Linked DNA regions of Homo sapiens. The protein of the gene in region 1 interacts with the protein of each later gene in a pairwise test. Each region holds a gene or a part of one and is shown on either strand. Other genes may lie near its edges.

Region 1 (3,500 bases):
TAAATAAATAAATCAGGAAAATAACCCAGATGCATCTCTGCATACAAAAAAAGCTTAGAAAATATAAATGAAAAAAAGAAAATATAAATGAATTATAGTAATCCCAAAACACAATCCAGAAGTAGCTATTTTCTTTCTATTTCCTCAGTAATAAAATTCAAAATGAAATCTCACTAAAATTTAAATAATCCTCTCCTCTCAGTCTTCTAAAATGGTTTTTCTGACTTACCAATGTCAATTTGCTCCACAGCCTCCTCAACAGTTACACCTGGAGAAGCCACTGTCTTTACAAAGGGATAGAGATTGCAGGCAACAACTCTATAAAACAAAGACGAATCTGGCTGTCATTAAAAAGTCCACTCATGTGGTTTACAGCTATCTAGGAAAAAAACAAGTCAGTACTATTAACGTAAACAAAAGCCATAGAGAACTAATATATAAACTGTGAGCCTGACATTTTAGAATTCTAACGAGTGTGTTAAAAAGTCAGGGTGTCCTGCTGGGGTCGAGCAGAGGTAATTTAGTCAGCAGGTGCTCCCCGGATCTGAATACACAGTACTCCCTCCACGTCACACTGCAACGCTGCTGCTTGCATAACCTTAGCTACCCAGAACCACCAAGCCATGAAAAATTTATAGAACATTTTAATAGAAGTATAAAGTACAAGATTACAGATAACATTCTCATTTTGGAATGTGATCACTATTATCCAGAACATTAGAATTTAGATTCTTTTTCCAGTGGATTGGCACAATGATGAAAAATATCAGAGCATTCTAAGGGTGAAACATTTGTTTTGCCTTCAGAGAGGTCATAAAAATGATGGTAACAGGAATGCCAAAAGAATAATTTAAAATACAGAAGTAATCTAAAATTAACAATCAGTGAAGTACAGTTCCACTCCTAGGCCTGTAGTGCGAGGAGCTCTACGGGCAGGCTCCAAACAAGCCTAACTGCTGAAAACTAATTAAAAAAAACAAAAACAAAAACAGAAGAACAGAATTGGAGGGGAAACATTTTGCAGCTCATCTTTATTAAGTCTACTGCCCTCCTACTAAAACCAGACAAATGTCACAAGAAAACTAGAGACCAGTATCTCTTAGGTATCTTCACACAAAAACTCTCAACAAAACACTAACAAACTGAATCCAGAAAAATGCAAAAACCACCTGATCATCTCAATAGATGTACAAAAAGGATCTGACACAATTCAACAGGTATTCATATAGAAACACTCAGCAAATTAAAAATAGAAGGGAACTTACTGAACATGACAAAGTGTAAGAAAAACCCACAGCTAACATCATACTTGATGGTGAAAGACTAAAATACTTGTCTACTCAACTCAGAAACAAGACAAGAGGCCAGGCGCAGTGGCTCATGCCTATAATCCCAGCACTTTGGGAGGCTGAGCCAGGCAGATCACCTGAGGTCAGAAGTTCGAGACCAGCGTGGCCAATATGGTAAAACCCCATCTCTACTAAAAATACAAAAATTAGCCGGGCAAGGTGGCGCACGCCTGCAATCCCAGCACTTTGGGAGGCTCAGGAGGATGGATCAACTGAGGTTGGAAGTTCAAGACCAGCCTGACCAACATGGAGAAACCCCATCTCTACTAAAAATACAAAATTAGCCAGGCAAGGTGGCACATGCCTGTAACCCCAGGCTGAAGCAAGATAATCACTTAAACCCGGGAGGCGGAGGTCACAGTGAGCCAAGATCACGCAACTGCACTCCGCCTTGGGCAACAAGAGCAAAACGCCATCTTAAAAAAAAGAAACAAAACAATAATGTCCATTCTTACCACTTCTACTGAACACTGTACTAGAAGTTCTAGCCAGAGCAATTAGCAAAGAAAAGAAAATAAAAGGCATCAGGACTGGAAAGAAAGCAGTGAAGTTATATCTATTTGCAGATGATACCACCTAGTATACAGAAAATCCCAAATTCACAAAAATAACCTTTTAGCACTAATAAATGAGTTCAGCAAAGCCGCAGGATATATGATCAATATATAAAAATCAATTGTATTAAAATATACATTAGCAGTGAATGAGAAAAAAATTAAGAAAACAATTCTACTTCACAAGACAATGTTAAAGAAATTAAAGACACCCCATGTTCACAGACTGGAAGATTTAATATTCTTAGGATGGTAACATTTCCCAAATTGATCTACAGATTCAACACAATACCTATGAAAATTCCAACTGCGTTGTTTTGCAGAAATGGACAAGCTGATTCTAAAAATCATGTGGAAATGCAAGGGACTCTGAAGAGTCAAAGTCATCTTGAATAAAAAAAACGAAGTTGGGGCCGGGCGCAGTGGCTCACGCCTGTAATCCTAGCACTTTGGGAGGCCGAGGCGGGCGGATCACGAGGTCAGGAGATCGAGACCATCCTGGCGAACACGGTGAAACCCTGTCTCTACTAAAAATACAAAAAAATTAGCTGCGCATGGTAGCGGGCGCCTATAGTCCCAGCTACTCGGGAGGCTGAGGCAGGAGAAGGGCGTGAACCCGGGAGGCAGAGCTTGCAGTGAGCCAAGATCGCGCCACTGCACTCCAGCCTGGGCAACAGAGCCAGACTCCGTCTCAAAAACAAAACAAAACAAAACAAACAAACAAACAAAAAACAGAAAAATGAAGTTGGAGGACTCACACTTGCTGATTTCAAAATTTGTTACCAGCCTATAGTAATAGTGTAGTACTGGCATAACAGCAGGCACATGGACCAAGGGTGCCAAGACCATTCGATTGGGCAAAGAACAGTCTTTTCAACAAATGATGCTGAGACAACTAGACAGCCACATACAAAATAAAATAAGACTTCTATTTCATGTCTGTATATGAAAATTAACTTAAAATGAACCAAAGACTTAAGTATAAGAGCTAACACTAAAATAACTCTTAAAAGAAATGTACACACGCCGGGTGCGGTGGCTCACACTTGTAATCCCAGCACTTTGGGAGACCGAGGCAGGTGGATCACCTGAGGTCAGGAGTTCAAGACCAGCCTGGCCAACATGGAGAAACCCCGTCTCTACTAAAAACACAAAAAAATTAGCTGGGCGTGGTGGCGGGCACCTGTAATCACAGCTACTTGCGAGGCTGAGGCATGAGAATCGCTTGAACCCAGGAGGCGAAGGTTGCAGTGAGCCGAGATCACGCCACTGCACTCCAGCCTGGGCAACAAGAGCGAAACTCCATCTCAAAAAAAAAAAAAAAAAGAAAGAAAATATACACAAAAATCTTCATCACTGAGGATTAGGCAATGGTTTCTTAGACATGACACCATTAACACAAGCAACAAAAGAAAAAATAAATTCAACATCATCAAAATTAAAAACTTTTGTGGGCCGGGCATGGTGGCTCAAGCCTGTAATCCCAGCACTTTGGGAGGCCAAGGCGGGCAGATAACCCGAGGTCAGGAATTCAAGACCAACCTGGCCAACATAGTGAAACCCTATCTCTATTAAAAATCCAAAAAAATTAGCCAAG
Region 2 (3,500 bases), on another chromosome or scaffold:
ATGTGGTTTAAATTGCAATTTTTACTTTTAAGATTTTTTGCCAGTTAGTTTTCATTCCATTTTTTCCTTTTATTATTTACTTATCTTTTTTAGCTCCTTTCGTTGTTCCCTCTGAATTTGGAATACTTCCAACTGTTCTCATTTGTGTATATGTCTGTGTAGGTATCATATAGTCTTTTACCATGTACTTTTTTTAAAAGATTGTTTTACATATATAGTGTATATATATATATATATATATATATATATATATATATCTTTATAGATTAAGCATTCCTTATCTATGGAAGATTAGTGCTATTATAGGTCATTTTTTTTGGGATGTGTCCCTCTGAAACACATGGCCTCTGGAACCAGATGCCTGGAGTAAAACCCGGGCTTTGCCATCTCATGCGTGTGACATAGGGCAAGTGACCTAATTTGCTCAGTTTCCTCACTTGTTAATTTGGGACAATACTAATATTGTAAGGACTAAATGGCTTGCTGTATACTTAAAGTGCATTATGAATTAAATATAACATTCCCAGCAGCAGAATAAATTCCTTTTGTTAGTTAGTATTCTTGGTGTAGAGTTCTGATGTGTAAACATATTTTTATTTTTAAGGCAGAATGCAATATTTCACACTTACAGGTCTTTAAATACTCTGTAAGTACATAAAAATAGAGTCAAAGTTTTAACTTTTAAAAAGTTACTTTTATGAGAATATTATTTTATACTTTTGTAGTGTTAACATATTTTCCTGTCATTGATTTAACTTTCATATATAAATAGGGTTCTATTATGATTATACCATTTTTAATAAAACTCTCTTTTGGATTTAGCAATTTAGAGTTATTATTTAGTGCAGTTAATCTGTTTATTTAAGATGGGGTTTTCACTGAGTCCTTCAAGGTTCGGAAAAGTGCCTAAGGGAAAAAAGACTCCTACCCTAAAGAGAGTTCATATAGTTTTTTTTTGATTGCCTGTTAATGTCGCTGAAGGATTATGATTTTGTTTTTGTTAAAGTTTCATCCTAAATTCTCTAAGACGAATAAAGGTACAGTATCAGTAATTCGTCTTCCATTTAAGGGTGAAAGGCTGAACCAGTCAGGCTGTACTGTGGATGTTTTACAAGTTACAAATGCCTCACTAAACCACCCTTCTCAGAAGACAGTCACTGGGCATAGAAAATGAGCAGGATTATTTGCAGGATGTTACACCTTTAACACTGACTGAAATCCAGATGGGAACAAGCAGGAATGTGTATGATTTCTTAAAGACACCTCAGGTGCCTTTGGTCTCTCGTATTGTATATACAGTGTATATGCAATACAGTGTACAATGTAAAGTGTACAGTGTACAATACCGTGTATAATAGAAAGCAGTGCCAAGGTCTACTAGTTTTCTCTACAGCAGCAGTCAACAGTCAAGTTAGAGAACAGGTGGGGAACTAGAGACAGAGTGGGATAGAGAGAGAGAGGAATGAGCCAGGAGGACACGTGGAATCCAGGAGGCAACGGAGCCCTGAGGTGCTCAGATGGAACAGGGTGTTCAGACAACCGCGAGTACCATGAACCAGGTGTGGGACGACGGTGTGTCCCAGGAACAGGGTGTGATGGGTACAGCATGTCCCAGGAACAGGGTGTGAGGAGGACAGTGTGTCCCATGAACAGGGTGTGAGGACAGTGTGTCCCACGAACAGGGTGTGGTGTGGACAGTGTGTCCCACGAACAGGGTGTGAGGAGGACGGTGTGTCCCACGAACAGGGTGTGGTGTGGACGGTGTGTCCCATGAACAGGGTGTGGCGTGGACGGTGTGTCCCATGAACAGGGTGTGGTGTGGACGGTGTGTCCCATGAACAGGGTGTGGTGTGGACGGTGTGTCCCATGAACAGGGTGTGGTGTGGATGGTGTGTCCCAGGAACAGGGTGTGAGGAGGACGGTGTGTCCCAGGAACAGGGTGTGAGGACGGTGTGTCCCAGGAACAGGGTGTGAGGACGGTGTGTCCCACGAACAGGGTGTGGTGTGGACGGTGTGTCCCACGAACAGGGTGTGGTGTGGACGGTGTGTCCCAGGAACAGGGTGTGGTGTGGACGGTGTGTCCCAGGAACAGGGTGTGGTGTGGACGGTGTGTCCCAGGAACAGGGTGTGGTGTGGACGGTGTGTCCCAGGAACAGGGTGTGGTGTGGACGGTGTGTCCCACGAACAGGGTGTGGTGTGGACGGTGTGTCCCACGAACAGGGTGTGGTGTGGACGGTGTGTCCCACGAACAGGGTGTGGTGTGGACGGTGTGTCCCATGAACAGGGTGTGGTGTGGATGGCATGAACAGGGAGCGAGGCGGATGGTGTGTTGTATGAACAGGGTGTGGTGTGGATGGTGTGTTGTATGAACAGGTGTGGTGTGGGTGGCATGAACAGGGTGTGATGTGGGTGGCATGAACAGGGAGCGAGGCGGATGGTGTGTTGTTGTATGAACAGGGTGCAAGGTGAGCAGCGTGTCTCATGAACAGGGTGTGGTGTGGACAGCATATCCCGTTAATGGGGTGTGATGTGGATGGCGTGTCACATGAAGAGGGTATTATAGTTTGGGGAGTTTAAGGAGTTAAAGGCTGGGAGAAGGAGTCACCAAGTATGTCACTGAATACTGCAGGGCTATTGAAGCCTGGGCATTGCGGGGTGATGCACTGTCATGTGTGCTGTGGAGAGCCGTGTGTGGAAGGGGGAGGGGAGCAGTGAGGCCGACGGCAGGAGGGGTGGGGGATGAGAGGAGGCTCATCGGCTATGGAGAGACCCCTGTTCCATTGCAGGGATCAGGGAGGATCCTCCCTAGCCAGGACTGTGTGCCAGGGAGGAACCTTCCGTGAAGCAAGACGTGTGGTTTCCATCACAGGGGAACAGAAATAAGACATGAGTGAATAATCCTGCAAAGGAAGATGGGCCACACGCCCTCAAATCCTCACCACGGCCCTAAGCAGCTTGATTTATTGCATATTAAGAGACTGAGGCTGTGGGAAGCTGTGACTTACCTGAGGTCACGTTAGCAAGTGGCGTGGCTGGGATCTGAATCCGGCTTTTGTTTCCACACTCATGGTGCACACTGCCTCTAGTAATCTGAAAAGACACTTTTCTAAGGTATAGTCTCTTTACATTTAAGAATCTAAAACATGGACTGTGTGCTTTGATGCCTCGAAGTAAAGCCCTTCCCTTTCCCTTGTACTGCCAGAGAATATTCCCTACACACCTGCGGTAGCTCAGCTTTCTCTTATCATACAGGTAACATGTATGCACGTGCAATTTTAAAAAATACAAACCAAGTTTGTAAATAGTTCTTTATTACTGGTCTTCGTGATGCTTAAGCTCAGGCACACTCAGTTCCTTTTAGTCTTCGTGAACAGTACTATTCAGGGGGCCTCTAATCTTGCTTTCCACGTGGTTAAAGTCCAGGCTGAAATGAAAGAAGGAGTGAATATTGACCTGCTGGGAAAAACCAACATCTTAGTGGATATGAGCAGGAAGAGCAA

The links.
Region 2: the proteins of ATIC (region 1) and MTNR1A interact in a two-hybrid assay, tested with the Homo sapiens proteins (one large-scale study listed by BioGRID and IntAct).

The regions. Positions count from the first base shown.
Region 1 is NC_000002.12:215,322,059-215,325,558, reverse strand, and holds part of ATIC (bifunctional purine biosynthesis protein ATIC), read right to left. Parts: intron 319-3,500; coding exon 230-318; intron 1-229. UniProt on the Homo sapiens protein: Bifunctional enzyme that catalyzes the last two steps of purine biosynthesis.
Region 2 is NC_000004.12:186,545,568-186,549,067, reverse strand, and holds part of MTNR1A (melatonin receptor type 1A), read left to right. Parts: intron 1-3,294; exon of another isoform or gene 3,295-3,424; intron 3,425-3,500.